Regions from separate parts of the Homo sapiens genome. Here region 1 is linked to region 2. Evidence: fine-mapped expression QTL. Tissue or cell type: whole blood. Region 2 holds a variant in brackets; the other region holds the start of a gene. All regions are shown on one strand. Distances are between the middles of the regions.

The links. PIP is the estimated chance that this variant, and not a neighbour inherited with it, causes the effect.
Region 1: SUGP2 starts here. The variant in region 2 is fine-mapped to the expression of SUGP2 in whole blood (TOPMed, PIP 0.96).

What each region holds. Positions count from the first base shown.
Region 1 is chr19:19,028,237-19,038,301 of GRCh38, reverse strand. SUGP2 (SURP and G-patch domain containing 2) reads left to right here and starts at 4,785. Exons shown (of 11, transcript NM_001017392.5): 1 at 4,785-4,865; 2 at 7,220-7,351. The coding sequence starts at 7,231. ARMC6 (armadillo repeat containing 6) reads right to left here and starts at 4,699. Exons shown (of 9, transcript NM_001199196.2): 1 at 4,372-4,699; 2 at 4,064-4,171. The coding sequence starts at 4,092. RefSeq lists silencers at 4,696-5,125, 5,546-5,625 and an enhancer at 5,552-6,053.
Region 2 is chr19:18,976,865-18,986,929 of GRCh38, reverse strand. No RefSeq gene overlaps it. Among named protein-coding and RNA genes, the nearest start is that of HOMER3, 41 kb to the right of the region's middle. RefSeq lists an enhancer at 8,196-8,840. The variant G/A (reference allele first, on the strand shown) is at 5,305.

The DNA.
Region 1 (10,065 bases), 51 kb before region 2:
TCAGGATTGTTCAAGCTCATTACATTTATTGTGCACTTTATTTCTATTATTGTTACATTGTAATATAATAATTATACTATTCACTGTAATGTAGGATCAGTGGGAGCCCTGAGCTTGTTGTCTGGCAACTAGACAGTCCCATCTGGGGGTGATGGGAGATAGTGACAGATCATCAGGCATTAGATTTTCATAAGGAGTGCCCAACCTAAATCGCTTGCATGTGCAGTTCACAGTAGGGTTCGTGCTCCTATAATTTAATGCTGCTGATCTGACAGGAGGTAGAGCTCAGGCATAATGCAAGTGATGGGGAGTTGCTGTAAATACAGATGAAGCTTCACTCGCTCACCCTACGCTTGCCTCCTGCTGTGCAGCCCAGGTCCTAACAGGCCAGGGACCACTGGACCAGTATGGGTCTGTGACCCAGGAATTGGGGACCCCTGCTGTAGATGATCTTAACCAGAAGGTCTTGACAGGGTACGAGTGAACCTAACATTTGCCACCGTCCCTTTGGAACAAAAGGAGGAACAGGCCTTAGGTCCAGAGCCTAACAGAGGTTAACAACTTTTTAAATTTTAATTGTTTCAATATATCCACCTTGCTTATTGCAGTAATATCAAGTTTCCGTTCTGGAATTATCAAGTTTCCACTTCAGGCCAGGCATGGTGGCCTGCACTTTGGGAGGCCGAGGCGGAAGGATCACATGAGGCCAGGAGTTTGAGACCAGCCTGGACACGTGGCGAAACTCCATCTCTATAAAAAATACCAAAATTAGCCAGGTGTGGGAGCATGCACCTGTAGTTACAGCTATTTGGGAGGCTGAGGTGGGAGCCCAGGGAGGTCAAGGCTGCAGTGAGCTGAGATCATATCCCTGAACTCCAGCCTGGGTGACAAAGTAAGACCTTGTCTCAAAAAAAAAAAAAAAGGAAAAAGAAACAGGTCACTCTGGCCCATGCTTCTCTTTTCAGGCAGTGGCATGGGATATACACATTCCATCTGTGTTCCTGCAGATGCCCACCATGGACTGCACACTGCCTGACGGGAGAAGGACTGGCTCGCAGCCAGCCTGCAGAACCCAGTTCCCATGCCCTCCACTTCAATGCCCTTTTCTTTTTTTTTTGAGACAGAGTCTCGCTCTGTCGCCCAGGTTGGAATGCAGTGGCACGATCTTGGCTCACCACAACCTCTGCCTCCTGGGTTCAAGCGATTCTTGTGCCTCAGCCTCCAAGTAGCTGAGACTACAGGCCCACGCCACCACGCCCAGCTAATTTTCGTATTTTTAGTAGAGACAGGGTTTCACCATGTTGGCCAGGCTAGTCTCGAACTCCTGACCTCAGGTGACCCACCTGCCTCGGCCTCCCATCATGCTGGGATTACAGGCATGAGCCACCACGCCCAGCCAGATACACTTTTCTTCAATTCCCTCATGTGTCAAACAGAGATAAACACGAATCTACTTCATAGGGCAGTAGTGAAAAATTCAGCCAACTCCTATACCTTCCTCAGAACAGGATATGGACAGGCTCAATAAATTAGCTATTTGTTCCTTTCCTTTGTTGCTTAAGAGGCAATTCAGCAAGTTTATGCAGGAGTCCCATCTCACTCTTTTGCAGATAGGCCCCTCTCCTTTCTGCCCCAGAAGAAAAGGGAGCTCTTTAAGGGCTGCTATGGATTTCCAAGGTTAAAGGTGAAGGAAGAGTAATATAAAGAGTTTCTCAGTAGGGAGTAAGGAGTAGGGGACTCCACTCCCACCACCCCGGCCAGGCCAGGAAATTCCTTGTGGCCCTCAAGATCTTTACCTGAAAACAATTTTGTTGAATGTCACCCTGGCAATGTAAATTGACAGGTGATCTTCACAAGTGCAGGACAGAAAGTCATCACCTGAGACAAATGCATATCCAGTTGCTCTCTCTGCCCTAACGTTTATGTAAAAATGCAGATTTGGCCTGGCTCCGTGGCTCATGCCTGTAATCCCAGCATTTTGGGAGGCTGACACCGGTGGATCACCTGAGGTCAGGAATTCGAGACCAGCCTGACCAACATGGCGAAACCCCGTCTCTACTAAAAATATAAAAATTAACTGGGCGTGGTAGTGGGCGCCTGTAATCCTAGCTACTCAGGAGGCTGAGGCAAGAGAATTGCTTGAACCCGGGAGGTGGAGGTTGCAGTGAGCCAAGATTGCGCCATTGCACTCCAGCCTGGGCGACAGAGCGAGACTCTATCTCAAAAAATAAAACAAAAAACAAGAAACAAAACCTCAGATTCATGAGTCGGACTGAGGCATAAATGACTATTCCTCTACCTGCCCTGTACCCCATATAAATCGTGTATTCTGTGAAAGGCTGACCAAAGACTCAAAAGAAAGCAATCATTTGTCTCTACCTGTGACCATCTTACACATATTCATTTATATCTCACGTCTCCCTAAAATGTATAAAAGCAAGCTGTGCCCCAACCACCTTGGGTACATGTTGTCAGGACCTCCTGAGGCTGTGTCACAGACATGTCCTTAACCTTGGCAAAATAAGCTTTCTAACTGATTGACACCTGTCTCAAATACTTCGGATTCTCAGTCCTCTGTGGAGCTTCTGCCAGCCCTTCCAGGTGGCTGCCTTTCCTGGCCACTCAGAGAGCCCACACTCTCTGGCTTCACTCCCCAACCCACAACCCCTCCCTTCCACCCACCCCTGAGCTGACTGAGTTGGGAAGGTCTGGCTCTGTGACCACCCCTGACCTGAGTCCTCCAAGGTCCCCTAGATCTGGTACAGGGCTGAGTTGGAGGAGGAAAGTACAGATTTGGAACACATAAGATGGTGCCTGGAGATGGCCAAGTAAGAATTACCTGGAGAACAGCCTAGGCTAAAAGGGGGAAGCAGCATTACCAGTCCCTATTATCCATCAGGGCATGCTGAGGGTAAAACAGAAGATGAGTAAGGCCCCTAACTGGCAGCCAGTTTCCTTCTCTCAGCCAGGAATCTGCTCATCAAGAAAACTGTGCTGTCCAGGTGCGGTGGCTCAGGCCTATAATCCCAGCGCTTTGGGAGTCTGAGGCGGGTAGATCACTTGAGGTCAGGAGTTTGAGAACAGCCTGGCCAACATAGCAAAATCCTGTCTCTACTGAAAATACAAAAAATTAGCCAGGGCCGGGCACGGTGGCTCACGCCTGTAATCCCAGCACTTTGGGAGGCCGAAGCGGGCGGATCATGAGGTCAGGAGATCAAGACCATCCTGGCTAACACGGTGAAACCCCGTCTCTACTAAAAAAATACAAAAAAACTAGCCGGGCGTGGTGGCGGGTGCCTGTATTTCCAGCTACTCGGGAGGCTGAGGCAGGAGAATGGCCTGAACCCAGGAGACGGAGCTTGCAGTGAGCTGAGATTGCGCCACTGCACTCCAGCCTGGGTGACAGAACGAGACTCCGTCTCAAAAAAAAAAAAAAAGGCCAGGCAAGATAGTGCACACCGGTAATCCCAGCTACTCAGGAGGCTGAGGCAGGAGATCGCTTGAACTCCTTTTGACTCCGTTTCAAAAAAAAAAAAAATACAAAATTTAGCCAGGTGCGGTGTTGCGCACCTGTAGTCCCAGCTACTCGGGAGGCTGAGGCAGGGGAAGCCCTTGAACCCGGGAGGTGGAGGTTGCAGTGAGTCAAGATCATGCCACTACACTCTAGCCTGGGCGACAGAGAAAGACTCCGTCTCAAAAGAAAATTAAACGTGTGCCATGACATGCTGGGGACTCTAAAAGACTCCATCCACATGTCCCTCTACCAGCCACACCCACTCTGGTTCAAACACCAGCCTCCCCTAAGGGCGGCGTCACCTGCCACTCCCAGAGCCTAGACTCCACCTCACTCACGTGCTCAAAGCCCGGTAGTGGCTTCCCAACCCTCTCAGAACAAAACCCAGCCTCCTTATCCGCACCTTCTCTATCTAAGCCTTCCAAGTTCCTCTTCCCCGCCTTTCTCATCCTTCCCAGCACTCAAGAGACAGCCTTCAAAACCACTTCTAGATAAAGAGCAGCCCTGCTTTCCCGTCCCATCACTCTGTTATTATTTGCACACCATTACCTGTATCTAGAGCAACATCGTTCACTCATTTATTTGTACCCTGTAGCCTCCTTGTCCCCACTGCCTAGGACGGGGCCCGACACGCAGCAGGCACTCAGTGCACAGGTGCTGAATGAATAAATAAAATGAATGAAAATAAAGCGAATGCCAGGGAAGCCGAGGATTTTGTCCCCAGGCGGCTTCTGTAAAATTCTTTCATTTTTTTTTTCCCCCCAAACCACGTACCCGAGGGTCGCGCCAGCCCGACCCTGCGGCACCCCCACTCCCCACTCCGCGCGGGACAGGCCTCGGCAGCCGCAGCGTCTCACCCGGTCTTCGCGGCCACGTGGGGAAAGGTGGGGCGCGCGGTTGTCACCCAGGGAGCCGCCTCTAGCCCCTTCCGGCCGCCGTACGCGCGCAGGCGCTGTGGCGCCCCTAGGCTTGGCCTCCCAGAGACTCGCGGACGCTCACGATAACCAAGGACGACCGCGAACCAAGGTAAAGCCAACGAGGCCACCTCGTGCGCGACGGAGGCGTCTTTGCCGCCCCTTCCGGGACGCTCACGGTGGTCGCCGCCCCCAGCAGGGAAATGTTTTGCCTCCAGAGCGTCCGCCCAGAAGAAGCGGACAGCGCGCTTGCGCAAGAGAGCCGGGCCGCGGCGGCCCGCGCCTGCGCACCAGGACTCGGCGGCGGCTTGCGCCTGCGCGGCGCGGCGCTGCGGAGACCGTTGGTTCATTTGCATGTCCCCGCCTCGCGCGGCGGCGGCGGCGGGTGAGGAGCCTGAGGCGGCGGCGGGGGTGGCTCCGCGCGCGGTGGTCTCGGGGTGAGGCCCGGGCCCTGGCGTCGTCGGTGGGTGGCTCCCGGGGTGGGAAGCTCGGGCTCGGCCTTGGGGGCCCGCCCCGGGCTCCGTGATGGCGTCGCAGGCTCGGCCCTCTGGCTGCGGCGGCGGCCGCGTCCCCGCCGGGTTGGCCTGGGTGGCCGGCTGCGGCCTCCCGGGCCCGGCGCCCCCATTTCCTCGCCCGCAGAGGCCGGGAGACGGCGGGCCGCGTCCACAAAGGCTCATTGGTTCAGTCGTTCATTCATTCCTCCCGAACTCGGAGCGGCCCCCGCTCGGGAGGAGATAACGGCGCCCAGCGCTGCATCGGGCCCTTGCCCTCTTTAGAACCGGTTCAGCCCCCACACCAGCCCCTTTACTGGCTGCCCATTCCATAGGTGGGGAAACGGAAGCACAGAAAGCTTAGAATCGTGTGATTTGAACCTGGGTCACCTGACCCGGGAACCCTGCCCTTTGCCAGCAGAGAACAAGGGGGCGCCCCGGGAAAAGGGCTGAAGGATGGGACTGGGGGAGGCGGGTGGGGGAGGCGGTGATCGTGATGGGAAATGGACCCTACGGGTTGTCTCTTGAAGTTGGAGGTTTTGCGAAGCGGGATATCTTGATGGTTAAGGATGCAGCCCCTGGACCCCAAAATGTTGCTTAATCTTTTTACTCATTCTTCGGGGCTTTGGATGCACGAATACCCTTTTTGCCAGGTTCAAATCTGGGCTGTCTGGTCTTGAATGGGTCGTTGAGTCTGTCTCCCTTTGCCTCCTCACCCTAATGTCATTCATAACAGGACCCGCCTCTTCAGTGGGTGGTTGGGAGATCGCGCAAGGACCCAGCGCAGAATGAACTGTCACTAGTTCATTGTCATTGGTTGGGGGTCCCGCCACTCACTGTCAAGAGGCTTCTTTTAGAAGGGAAGGAAGTTCTCAGAGCCTCTGTGCCCTGCTGAGTCTGTGAATGGGAAAAGAGTGATCCTGGGCCAGGCGCAGTGGCTCACGGCCTGGAATCCCAGCACTTTGGGAGGCCGAAGCGGGCGAATCACTTGAGGTCAGGAATTCAAGACCAGCCTGGCCAACATGGTGAAACTCCATCTCTACCTAAAATATAAAAATTAGTCGGATGCGGTGGCGGACTCCTGTAATCCCAGCTACTCAGGAGGCTGAGGCAGGAGAATTGCTTGAGTCCAGGAGGCGGAGGTTGCAGTTAGCCGAGATCATGCCACTGCACTCCAGCCTGGGCAACAGGGAGAGTCTCAAAAAAAGGAAGAAAAAAAAAAAAAAGATTGATCTCTTCTTTCCTAACCACGATTTGCGAGGGTTGTGGTCCCACCCTTCCTACTCTGTTATGCTCAGTTATGTGTGTTGGTTGACACCTTCCTCCAGCAGATAGAACTGCTTTCACAGAGCTGCTTTTAATGGATTCCAAGGAGATGGGCCCAGAGAAGGTTTGTCTTGCTCCTTTTCAGCCAGCACACACCTGTGAACTTCGTGAGGGCAGAGACCCCCTTAAAAGAGTCCAGACAAGGTGGGCAGATTGCTTGAGGTCAGGAGTTCGAGACCAGCCTGGCCAACCTAGCAAAACCCTGTCTCTACTTAAAAAAAAAAAAAAAAAAGATAAATAAAAAGGGTCCAGCTTGCCTCTGAAGTACCATGCGAGGATTATGGATTACTGCCTCCTTACTTCGAGGATTAAGTGAAATAGAGCAGGTTCTGTGAGCACGCATTTTTTTTTTCTTTGAGACAGTCTCGCTCTGTCCCCCAGTCTGGAGGGCAGTGGCATGATCTCGGCTCACTGCAACCTCTGTCTCCCTGGTTCAAGCAATTCCCATGCCTCAGCCTCCTGAGTATTTGGGATTACAGGCACGTGCCACCATGCCTGGTGAAATTTTTTTTTTTTTTTTTTTGAGACGGAGTCTCACTCTGTTACCCATGCTGGAGTGCAGTGGCATGATCTCGGCCCACTGCAACCTCCGCCTCCTGGGTTCAAGCAATTCTCTTGCCACAGCCTCCCAAGTAGCTGGGATTAAAGGCAGGCACCACCATGCCCGGCTAATTTTTGTATTTTTAGTAGAGACAGGGTTTTGCCATGTTGGCCAGGCTGGTCTCCAACTCCTGACTTTAAATGATCCGCTCACCTCAGCCTCCCAAAGTCCTGGGATTACAGGTGTGAGCCACCACACCCAGCCTGAATTTTTTGTATTTTAGTTTCATCATGTTGCCTAGGCTGGTCTCGAACTCCTGAGCTCAGGTGATCCGCCCACCTCGACCTCCCAAAGTGCCAGGATTACAGGTATGAGCCACCGCGCCCAGCTCCAAGTTGTTGCTCTTAGTGTATTTTTTTCTCTCTCACCATAGGGCAAAATAACATGGCAGCCAGACGAATTACACAGGAGACTTTTGATGCTGTATTACAAGAAAAAGCCAAACGATATCACATGGATGCCAGTGGTGAGGCTGTAAGCGAAACTCTTCAGTTTAAAGCTCAAGGTAAAATAAAGTGTTGTTGTTGTAGTTGTTGTTTTGGTAGGGGTGTATCTTAGGGCCAAGGCAGGAAGATTACAATACCTTGGGCAAATAATACCAGTCCTCTGATCCTTAGTTTCCTTATTTAGGAGGAGGTAAAGGTTTTTATTTTGGTTTGGTTTCTTTTTTGTGATAGGGTCTTACTCTCTCCCCCAGGCTGAAGTGCAGTGGCGCAGTTTTAGCTCACTGCACCCTTGAACTCCTAGGCTCAAGCCATCCTTCCATCTCTGCCTCCCAGAGTGCTGGGATTATAGGCATGAGCCACTGCACTTGGTCAGGGGATAATGTTTTGATCTGTCAGTCATCATTATGTAGTTATCTGGAGCTTCTCACTGGATATCCTCCCCGACCCACCTCAAGACAGTTTTGTTTATTGTTTGTTTGTTTGTTTGTTTGTTTTGAGACGGAGTTTCACTCTTGTCTCCCAGGCTGGAGGGCAATGGAGGGATCTTGGCTCACTGCAACCTCCGCCTCTTGGCTCACTGCAACCTCCGCCTCCTGGGTTCAAGCGATTCTCCTGCCTCAGCCTCCTGAGTAGCTGGGATTACGGGCATGCACCACCACGCCCAGCTAATTTTTCTATTTGTAGTAGAGATGAGGTTTTACCATGTTGGCCAGGCTGGTCTCGAACTCCCGACCTCAGGTGATCCACTTGCCTTGGCCTCCCAAGATGCTGGGATTACAGGCATGAGCCACCGAGCCCAGCCCAGTTTTGTTTTTTGGTGTTTTTTATGTTTTTGTTTTTTTTGTTTTTTGTTTTTTTTAATAGATATGGAGTCTTGCTATGTTTTCAGGCTGGTCTGCAACTCCTGGGCTCAAGTGATCCTCCCACCTCTGCCTTCAGCATGTTGCGATTACAGGCGTGAGCCACTGCTCCCAGCCCCAAGACAGGTTCTTGGATCCATTTCCTGGCTCCATCCCTGTCACCGCTGCCCAGGTTTAAGCTCTACTAGTTCTTTTTTTTTTTTATTTGAGACAGAGTCTTGTACTGTCGCCCAGGCTGGAGTGCAGTGACGTGATTTTGGCTCACTGCGGCCTGTGCCTCCTGGATTCAAGCGATTCTCCTGCCTCAGCCTCCCGAGTAGCTGAGATTACAGGTGCCTGCCACCATGCCCGGCTAATTTTTTTGTATTTATTTTAGTAAAGATGGGGTTTCACTATGTTGGTCAGGCTGGTTTTGAACTCCTGACCTTGTGATCTGCCCGCCTCGGCCTCCCAGAGTGCTGGGAGGATCACAAGGTCAGGAGATCGAGACCATCCTGTGAATGGTGAAACCCCGTCTTTACTAAAAATCAAAAAAAAAAAAAAATTAGCCAGGTGTGGTTGTGGGTGCCTGTGGTCCCAGCTACTTGGGAGGCTGAGGCGGGATAATGCCGTGAACCCGGGAGGTGGAGCCTGCAGTGAGCCAAGATTGCGCTACTGCACTCCAGCCTGGGCGACAGAGCGAGACTCCATCTCAAAAAAAAAAAAAGAAAAAAAATGGCCGGGCGCAGTGGCTCAAGCCTGTAATCCTAGCACTTTGGGAGGCCGAGGCGGGCGGATCACAAGGTCAGGAGATCGAGACCATCCTGGCTAACACGGTGAAACCCTGTCTCTACTAAAAATATTAGCCGGGCGTGGTGGCGGGCGCCTGTAGTCCCAGCTACTCAGGAGGCTGAGGCAGGAGAATGGCGTGAACCCAGGAGGCGGAGGTTGCAGCGAGCCAAGGTTGTGCCACTGCACTCCAGCCTGGGTGACAGAGCAAGACTCCGTCTCAAAAAAAAAAAAATTTATCTGGGCATGGTGGCATGCGCCTATGGCCCTGGCTACTTGGGAGGCTGAGGCAGGAAGTTCGCTTGTGCCCAGGAAGTCGAGGCTGCAGTAAGCTGTGTTTGTGCCATTATACTCCAGCCTGGGCCAAAGAGTGAGACCCTGTCTCAAAAAAAGACGGCCAGGTGCAGTGGCTTACACATGTAATCTCAGCACTTTGGGAGGCCAAGGTGGGCAGATCACCTGAGGTCAGGAGTTTGAGACCAGTCTGGCCAACATGGTGAAACCCCGTGTCTACTAAAAATACAAAAATGTGGCAGGCCCCTATAATCCCAGCTACCCAGGAGGCTGAGACAGAAGAATAGCTTGAACCCAGGAGGTGGAGGTTGCAGTGAGCCGAGATCGCACCACTGCGCTCCAGCGTGGGTGACAGAACGAGACTCCGTCTCAAAAAAAAAAGACAGATTAGGGGGCCGTGGGTGGGAGAGGACTAGAAACCTAGCAGTATGCTAGGTGATTCTGGAACATTTCTGTGTTGCAAAGCAGTCTATCGTTTAGCCTTTCTCTGTTTCTCTGCTCCACTCTGAACTTTTCATCTCCTCATAAAGGGTATGAGAAAATTCTCTTGAGTAGAATCCAGCCATCACTCTCTGTCACTAATGTTCCCTCCCTAATCATGCCATCAATACCAATCATCAATACCTGGGTTATCACAGTGGATTTCTTGCAGGAACATCCACGTCTGTGCTCATCTCCTTTAATCTGTTCCCTGTGCAGCAGCCAGTGAGATCATCCCTCTGCTTAGAACTCTTCACTAGCCTTCTGTCTCTCCCAGAGTAAATTCCAGAGTACCACTGAGGGCCCGACTTGGATCTGGTACTCCTTCTCCATTTGTGTCTCTTATATTAGTGGTTCCCTAACTTTGTAGC
Region 2 (10,065 bases):
GGGGACCTCACGAGCTGAGCTTTTCTTGGCTGAATTTTTCTCCAGCGAATCCTCAGGTTGGACTCATGGGAGCACCAACTCCCAGTTCTTGCAGCTTGTGGCCAGGTGTGAAAAGGGGAGCGTTAGCCTCGAGATTTCAGCTTCCACGCCTTCATGACTTGCTTTTGCCAGGAGGAAAGCAAACCTTAAGAATTTGAATCCTCAGTCCTAACATGTCCTCTCTGTGCTGTGTAACCTGGGGCGGGTGATCCACATCTCTGAGTGTCAGCTTCCTCATTTGCAAATGGGGAGAACAGTAGCATCTACAGAAGGGTTCTTAGGAGCAGCACCCGCATGCTGTGAACTCAGACATCGCTGATCTGTTTCCATTGTTCTGTGTCAGTGGACCCAGTCCTTGAGGCATCCCATTGGCTGACTCCTCCTCCTTAAAACAAAGGCCAGGCGTGGTGGCTCACGCCTGTAATCCCAGCACTTTGGGAGGCCGAGGCAGGCAGATCACCTGAGGTCAGGAGTTCGAGACCAGCCTGGCCAACATGGTGAAACCTCGTCTCTACTAAAAATGCAAAAATTAGCTGGGTGTGGTGGTGCATGCCTGTAATCCCAGCTATTCCGGAGGCCGAAGCAGGAGAATCGCGTGAATCCAGGAGGCGGGGGTTGCAGTGAGCCGAGATCGCACCACTGTACTCCAGCCTGGGCTACAAAAGCAAAACTCTATCTATAAATAAATAAATGAAGTTTCCTGAGTCCTTACCTAGACCCCATGACATGATGAAAGGGCCTTGACTCCAGTGTCCTGGTCACAACGAGTGACTTTGGAAAATTCACTTCACTCCCTGAGGCCCCAGCATGCTCATCTTAAAATAAAGATGTTCCAAGCTGGGCGTGGTGGCTCACACCTGCAATCCCAGCACTTTAGGAGGGAGAGGAAAGAGCACTGCTTGAGGCCAGGAATTCAAGGCCAGCCTGGGCAACGTAACAAGACCCCATCTCTATTAAAAAAAAAAGAAACCCTAGCCGGGCATGGTGGCACATGCCTGTAGTCCCACCTACTTGGGAGGCTGAGGAGGAAGGATCACTTGAGCCCGGGAGGTCAAGGCTGCAGTGAGCTGTGATTGTACCACTGCACTCCAGCCTGGGTGACAGAGTATGACCTTGTCTCAAAAAAAATAAATCCATTTGCAAAGTGTAGCATCATTTTTGTAAAAATCTTGTAAAATGTAGACAAGCCCCCCGTATATGGCAATGTTGGGCTGTGTTTCAGCACAAAGATGGGTCTACTCCAAACCGGCCACGTGGTAGGGAAGCGTGTGGGGTCCGGGCAGGGGTGCCACCCCCCACCAACACCCAGCCATGTGCCTCCTTACAACCAGTTTGAAAGGAAAATCCACTGAAGAATGTTTAGAGGAAGTAAAAACAGCAAAGCACTTGCTGGCAGCAATTGTCGGCCTTTGTTTCGGAGGCAGCTGTGGTCTTAGGAGAAAAAAGGATCAGATTTGAACCAAGACAGTTTCTTCCTGTGTCAAATGGGGAAATAAGCCTGGCTTCCTCCCAGGGCCATTGTTCAAAGGCTGCTGTGAAAAACCCTCTGACATCTCCTTGGCAGAGGCTCTGATCGGCTTTTTACATCTTGTCTGTTCACTCATTCATTCATTCATTCATTCACCACACATTTTTATTTGTTGGTTTTCGTTTTGAGACAGGGTCTTACTCTGTCGCCCAGGCTGGAGTGTAGTGGTGCCATCTCGGCTTACTGCAACCTCCACCTCCAAGATTCACGCAATCCTCCCACCTCAGCCTCCTGAGTAGCCGGGACTATGGGCACGCGCCACCATGCCCAGCTAATTTTTGTATTTTTTAGTAGAGAGGGGCTTTTGTCATGGTGCGGTGGCTCATGCTTGTAATCCCAGCACTTTGGGAGGCCAAGGCAGACGGATCGCTTGAGGTCAGGAGTTTGAGACCAGCCTGGGCAAGACGGCAAAATTCCGTTTGTACTAAAAATACAAAAATTAGCCAGGCATGGTGGTACACACACATAGTTCCAGCTACTCGGGAGGCTGAGGCGAGAAGATCACTTGAACCCGGAAAGTGGAGGTTGCAGCGAGCCGGGATGGCGTCACTGCACTCCAGCCTGAGTGACAGAGTAAGACTCTGTCTCAAAAACAAACAAAAAATTTATCATCATTATCATTATTATTTTTAAGACGGCATCTCACTCTGTAGCCCAGGCTGGAGTACAGTGGCATGATCATAGCTCTCTGCAGCCTTGACCTCCTGGGCTGAAATGATCCTCCAGCCTTAGCCTCCTGAGTAGCTGGGACTACAGGCATGTATCACCATGCCTGGCCTGATTTACACCTTTTAAAAGAGCAGTCTGGAAGGGCAGGGCAGGAATGAAAGCAATTCTGAACTGTTCCATCTATACCCCTCGGTTCCAGCCCCATTTAATGGCAGGCACCTGTGCAGGGTATCAGGGCTACCCTGGGCTGCTGGAGCACCCTTTGCCTGAATGCCCACTGGAACCAGAAGTGCCTGGAATTGACATTCCCCAGGGTAACCCTGACAGCTGACGAGGGTGGGGTGTGAATAACCTAGCCAAAAGACACAGAGACATAGACCCCGTGTGCTGGCCAGCTATTTGGTAAAACAACCATTCTCTGGCAGTTGTCTGAAATGTGGCCTTAGACAACGTTGTAGGCTCCGTCTCAGCCCCGAACCCCATGGAGGTCACTTGCAAGGAACCCAGAGCAAACCTGTCCTTTCTGGCTTGGACGTCCCACCTGCCTACTCTAGAGCCTTTGACAGTTTCCCTGTTTCAGTCCAGAGATGTTCACCCTCTCCTTTCTGGCTCTCCACGTTCTTGGCAGGTTGTTGCAAGAGGCAGAGATGTCTGGGAGCAACTAAGTCCCTCAGAACGCAGAAAACCTTCTTCTTCTTCTTCTTCTTTTTTTTTTTTTTTTTTTTTTTTTTTTTTTTTTGAGACAGAGTCTCACTCTGTTGCCCAGGCTGGTGGAGTACAGCAGCTCAATCTGGGCTCACTGCAACCCCCTGTAACCCCCACCTCCCAGTTTCAAGCAATTATTTTGCCTCAGCCTCCCAAGTAGCTAGGACTACAGGCAGGCACCACCATACCTGGCTAATTTTTGTATTTTTAGTAGAGATGGGGTTTCACCATGTTGCTCAGGCTGGTCTTGAACTCCTGACCTCAGATGATCCATCCGCCTCTGCCTCCCAAAGTGTTGGGATTACAGGCATGAACCACTGCACCTGGCCAGAAAACCTTCTTTTATCCAAGTCCAAGTAAGCAGGAGTCCAGGGTGGGCACCCGGGGGGCATCCCTAGATAGCACTGGATATCTTATAGCGCCAGGCATGGCAAAGAACGCTTGGCACCTGTGCTCCTTTCACCTTAGGCAACCACAGCTCCCTTTACAGACGAGGAAACTGAGGCCCAGAGACGTTGGTTAACAACTCTCTGGGGCAGGCAGGTGGGACGTCCAAGCCATTTCCAGAAAGTTCAGTTCTTAGGGCTGGTCTTTAGCTGTTTTTTTTTTTTGTTTTTTTTTTTTTGAGACAGAGTCTCATTCTGTCACCCAGGCTGGAGTGCGGTGGCACTGCAGCCTCAACCTCCCTGAGCTCAGGTGATCCTCCCATTTCAGCCTCCCAAGTAGCTGGGACTACAGGCATGCACCACCATGCCTGGCTAATTTTTTTTTTTTTTTTCTTTTTGTAGAGACAGGGTCCACTATGTTGCCCAGGCTGGTCACAAACTGTTGGGCTTGAGTGATCCGCTTATTTCAGCCTCCTAAAGTGCTAAGATTACAGGCAGGAGCCACTACAGCCTGCCTGGTCTTTGACTTTCTGTTTATCCTCATAGACAGCAATGAGGGCAGCCTCAATTTTCCAATTTCTCTGCTCTCCTAATGAATGAAGTAACTGACATGTTTATAGTGCTGTCTCTGCAGCACTAAGGGCTGAATACATGGGAACTCTTTGGGCTGCATAAAGCCAAAAAGGGAATTAATTGGTGGATGGAATTGGAAAGGACACCTTCAGGATCAGCTGGATCAAGGCACTCAACCAAAACCACCAGCCTCTCTCTCTATTTCTTGGCTTTGCTGTCCTTTGTTTACAGGCAGGCAAGATGGTGGCCAGCAACTCGGAGCCTAGCCTTACCCATTTAAGCAACATCACAAGAGCTCTGTTGTCTGATAGGGGTGGCACAGACACCAAGATTGTCTATTATTGCCCCAGCCCGGGGCATATGCCTGTCTCTGAACCAATCACAGTGGCCAGAGGGCTACAATACACTGATAGCTAGGGCTTCATTGGCTAAGAAGGGGGAAAGACCCCAAGCACAACAAGATGCTGTTCACAGAAGGACTAGGAAGAGCCCCTGCAAGTGGGCAGAATCAGAATCGGAACCCAGCTCTTCACTCCTTAGCTATATTGGTCTCAGCTGCTTTCTTTTCTTTTGAGACAGAGTTTTGCTCTTGTTGCCCAGGCTGGAGTGCCATGGCGTGATCTCGGCTCACCACAACCTCCGCATCCCGGGTTCAAGCGATTCTCCTGCCTCAGCCTCCTGAGTAGCTGGGATTACAGACATGCGCCACCATGCCCAGCTAATTTTGTGTTTTTAGTAGAGATGGGGTTTCTCCATGTTGATCAGTCTGGTCTTGAACTCCCGACCTCAGGTGATCCGCCCACCTCAGCCTCTCAAAGTGCTGGGATTGAGATTACAGGCATGAGCCACCACGCCTGGCCAGCTGCTTTCTGATGGACACTTTCACCCCTTCAAACACCTTCCACTTCAAACTCACCATCAATCAGGTGCAGTGGCTCACACCTGTAATCCCAGCATTTTGGGAGGCCAAAGTGGGAGGATCACTTCAGCCCAGGAGTTGGAGAACAGCCTGGGCAACATAGGGAGACCCAGTCTCTATAAAAAATTTAAAAATCTAGCCAGGTGTGGTAGCCCATTCCTTGTAGTTCCAGCTACTTGAGAAGCTGAGGTGAGAGGATCACTAAAGCCCAGGAGCTCAAAGCTGCAGCGAGCCATGATTGTGCCACTGCACTTCAGCCTGGACAACATAGGAAGACCCTGTCTTTAAAAAAATTCAGGCCTGGCTGGGTGCGGGTGGCTCATGCCTGTAATCCCAGCACTTTGGGAGGCCGAGGCAGGTGGATCATTTGAGGTCAGGAGTTTAAGACCAGCCTGGCCAACATGGTGAAACACTGTCTTTACCCAAAAATTAACTGGGCATGCTGGCACACACCTGTAATCCCAGCTACTCAGGAGGCTGAAGCA[G/A]GAGAATCACTTGAACCCTGGAGGCAGAGGTTGCAGTGAGCCGACATCACGCCCCTGCGCTCTAGCCTGGGCAAAAAGAGCAAGTCTCCATAATAATAATAATCATCATCATCATCAGGCCCCCTGGGACCCTCCTCACTGAATCCCAGTCTCTGCTCTCTCGCCTTCTCTGAGCCCCAATTTCCTCATCTGTAAAATGGGTCATCAGGAGCGTCTTGTACTCAGTAAACAGCCAAAGGTCACATTGGATTTACAGAAAGTGAGATCCAGATTCAGAGAGCAAGGAGGCTGGGCGTGGTGGGTCACGCCCGTAATCCTAGCACTTTGAGAGGCCGAGGCGGGCGGATTGCTTGAGGTCAGGAGTTCGAGACCAGCCTGGCCAACGTGGCGAAACCCTATCTCTAAAATACAAAAATTATCCAGGAGTGGTGGCACAAGCCTGTAATCCCAGCTACTCAGGAGGCTGAGGCAGGAGAATCACTTGAACCCAGGAGGTGGAGGTTGCAGTGAGCTGAGATCATGCCACTGCACTCCAGTCTGAGCAACAGACCTAGACTCCATCTCAAAAAAAGAAAAGAAAAACATAGAAGATAAGTCCTTGTGGGGGGTCCTCAGTCAGGGCTGGCGTTGAACTTTCTGTTTATCCTCATAGATCATGAGGAGTTTGGGCAGCCCAAATTTTCCCATTTCTCCACTCTCCTAATGAATGAAGAGGCCAACATGCTGTTTTTAATCCCATCTTTGCAGCAGACATGAATAGCTTCAGGAAGGAACTGGCCGGCATGAGCCAGGCCTGGTGCAGGCTGGCCTGTGAAGTGTCCACATATAAACATTCCTGCAGTTCACGCCAACAAAGGAGAATATGCTCATTTTCATTTTCATTTTGAAAATTAGATTTATTTTGTTGTGTTGGTTAGATTCCATAAAGTTCAGTTCATGGTCAGCCCCCACCTTCAACTTGGCAAACTCATATTCATCCCCCAAAACCCAACACCCACACCCCCTCCTCCATTCTTCAAAGGTTCATAAAATGCTACATCTCTCCCCTCTCTGTGCTATAAGAGAAACATCCAGGCTGGGCACGGTGGCTCACGCCTGTAATACCAGCACTTTGGGAGGCCAAGGTGGGCGGATCACGAGGTCAGGAGTTTGAGACCAGCCTGACCAACATGGTGAAACCCTGTCTCTACTAAAAATACAGAAATGGCCAGGCGCGGTGTCTCACTTCTGTAATCCCAGCACTTTGGGAGGCCGAGGTGGGCAGATCACGAGGTCAGGAGATCAAGACCATCCTGGCTAACATGGTGAAACCCCATCTCTACTAAAAATACAAAAAATTAGCCGGGCATGGTGGCAGGTGCCTGTAGTCCCAGCTACGCAGGAGGTTGAGGCAGGAGAATGGCATGAACCTGGGAGGCAGAGCTTGCAGTGAGCCAAGATCACACCACTGCACTCCGGCCTGGGCGATACAGTGAGACTCCGTCTCAAAAAAAAAAAAAAAAAAAAATTTGCCAGGCGTGGTGGCGCGCGCCTGTCATCCCAGCTACTCAGGATGCTGAGGCAGGAGAATCACTTGAACTTGAGAGGTGGAGGTTGCGGGGAGCCGAGGTCATGCCACTGCACTCCAGCCTGGGTGACAGAGCAAGACTCCATCTCAAAAAAAACAGAAAAAAAAAAAAAGAAAAAGAAAAAAAAGAAGCATTCCCCTGGCACTATGATCGTCTGTTTATAGCTGTTTCTCCCACTCTGGGCTCTGTTCTAGCACCCAGCTCAGTGCCTGGCACACAGTGGATACTCAATAAATGCGGTTTAGGTGGGATCTCACTCTATCGCTCAGGCTGGAATGCATTGGTGCAATGATAGTTCATTGCAGCCTCGACCTCCTGGGCTCAAACGATCCCACCTCAGCCTCCTGAATAGCTAGGACCGCAGGTGTATCCAGCACGCCTGGCTAATTTTATTTATATTTTTGCAGAGACGGGGTCTTGTTATGTTGCTCAGGCTCTTTTTTTTTTGAGACGAAGGCCCATTCTGTCGCTTGAGATGCCATCTTAAATTATAATAATGATAATAAATTGTTTGTTTGTTTGTTTTTGAGACAGGGTCTTACTCTTTTGCCCAGGCTGGAGTGCAGTGGTGCCATCTCGGCTCACTGCAACCTCCACCTCCCGGGTTCAAGTGATCCTCCTGCCTCAGCCTCCCGAGTAGCTGGGACTATGCGCGCATGCCACCAAGCCCAGATAATTTTTGCATTTTTAGCAGAGATGGGGTTTCGCCATGTTGCCTAGGCTGGTCTTGAACTCCTGACTTCAAGTGATCTGTCCCCTTCAGCCTCCCAAAGTGCAGGGATTACAGGCGTGAGCCACCACTCCCAGCCACCCAGGCTCATTGTTATCACCTCAAAAAGAAACCTGTCTCCATCAGCAGTCACTCCCCATTCCCCTCCACCAGTCCCTGGCAACCACCAATCTGCTTCCTGTCTATGGATTTGCCTGTTCTGGGCATTTCAGATCAATGGAATCTCACACTGTGTGGCCTTTTGTGTCTGGCTTCTCTCACTCAGCATCGTGTTTTGGGGGTTCATTCACGCTGTAGCATGGATCAGTGCTTCCTTCTTTTCCATGGCTGTATCATATCCCCCTGTGTGGATGGAACACACTCTGTTATCCATGCACCAGCTGATGGGCATGGGGAGGTTTCCACTTTCTGCCAACCATGACTAGAGCTGCTGTGGACACGCGTGGACAGGTGTTTGTGTGGACGTGGGTTTCCCCATCTCTGGAGCACTTCCCTGGCAGTGTCAGTCAATGTCTAATGGTTATTGTGAAACTTGTTAAACTTTAGCCACATAGTCAGCTGGGTTGCACAGATGACAGATCGAATCCCCCAGGCTTTGAAATCTGCCCCCACCCCCAACTCCCACATCTCCGAAGGGGGCCTTTTTTTTTTTTTTTTTTGAGACAAAGTCTTGCTCTGTCACCCAGACTGAAGTGCAGTGGTGCGATCTCGGCTCACTGCAACTGCAGCCTCAAGTGACTCTTCTGCCTCAGCCTTCCGAGTAACTGGGACTACAAGGCACATGCCACCAAGCCCGGCTAATTTTTGTATTTTTAGTAGAGAACGAGGTTTCACCATGTTGGCCAGGCTGGTCTCAAATTCCCAACCTCAAGTGATCCGCCCACTTCAGCCTCCCAAAGTGCTGGGATTACAGGTGTGAGCCACTGCACCCAACCAGAAGGGGGCCATTTTTGGTCTTCAAATCCAATGTGTCCACCTCTCAGGCCTTTTGCGGCTGAGGACCTCCCTGTCCGCAGGCCAGCCAAAGCAGATCTGTGACCCGGCTCGGGCTGTGGTGTTCTATGGATGGCTGATCAAGCAGCATCCTGCCCTAGGTTTATTTTGGTTGAGGGTAGCAGGCTTGGTCAGCACCTCAGGCCTGGCCCTGCCCAGGACCGTGAAACCCAAGGCCTCTAATGTGTGTCCTTGGTCTGCAGGTGTCTTGGGTGGCGCCCGAGGCTAGGAAGCTGGCCTGGGTTCAGCGGACAAAGGCCAAGGCAATCAGCTGAGGTCCTGCCACCGGAAGCTGTCACTATCTCAGAAATTCCCTGAGTGGCCGGGCGCGGTAACTCACGCCTGTAATCCCAGCACTTTGGGAGGCTGAGGCAGGCAGATCACTTGAGACCAGGAGTTCAAGACCAGCTTCGCCAATATGGTAAAACCCTGTCTCCACTAAAAATACGAAAATTAGCCAGGCATGGTGGCGGGCACCTGTAATCCCAGCTACTCCAGAGGCTGAGGCAGGAGAATCGCTTGAGCCCAGGAGACAGAGCTTGCAGTGAGCCAAGACCATACACTGCACTCCAGCTTGGGCGACAGAGCGAAACTCCATCTCAAAAAAAGAAAAAAAAGAAATTCCCTGAGTATGTATTGGAAAGTAACCCCGCCTCCTTCCCATCACCGGGCCTCTGGGTGCCTGTATCAGTAATGGCTCACAAGAGAAACAGAACCAACAGGAAATATACATATTACATATATAGAAAGAGATTTTCTCTAAAAAAAAAAAAAATTTTTTAAGATTTATTTTGTCTGGGCGTGGTGGTTTACGCCTGGAATCCTAGCACTTTGGGAGGCTGACATGGAAAGATTGCTTGAGCCCAGGAGTTTAAGATCCCATGTTTACAAAAAAGTTTTTAAAAAGTTTGGGCATGGTGGTGTGTGCCTGTGATCCCAGCCACTCCAGAGGCTGAGGTGGGTGGATCGTTTGAGCCCAGGAGGTCGAGGCTGCAGTGAGCCATGATCCCACCACCGCACTTCAGCCTGGGTGGCAGAGATCCTATCTCTCTCAAAAAAAAAAAAGATGTATTTTAAGGAATTGGGTCATGCAATCGTGGGGGCTGATAAACCCAAAATTCATAGGGCACTCTAGCAGGTTGGAAACAGGGAGGCTTTATTTGTTGCAAGCTTACGAATTCCTTTTTCCCTCTAGAAGCTGTTTTTGCTCTCTGAAGGACTTCAACTGATTAGATAAGAAGCATCGGCTGGGTGCAGTGGCTCACGCCTGTAACCCCAACACTTTGGGAGGCCGAGGCAGGAGGATCACCTGAGGTCAGGAGTTTCAGACCAGCCTGACCAACGTGGAGAAACCCCGTCTCTACTAAAAATGCAAAAATTATCCAGGCATGGTGGTGCATGCCTGTAATCCCAGCTACTCAGGAGGCTGAGGCAGGAGAATGTCTTGAACCCGGGAGGTGGAGGTTGCAG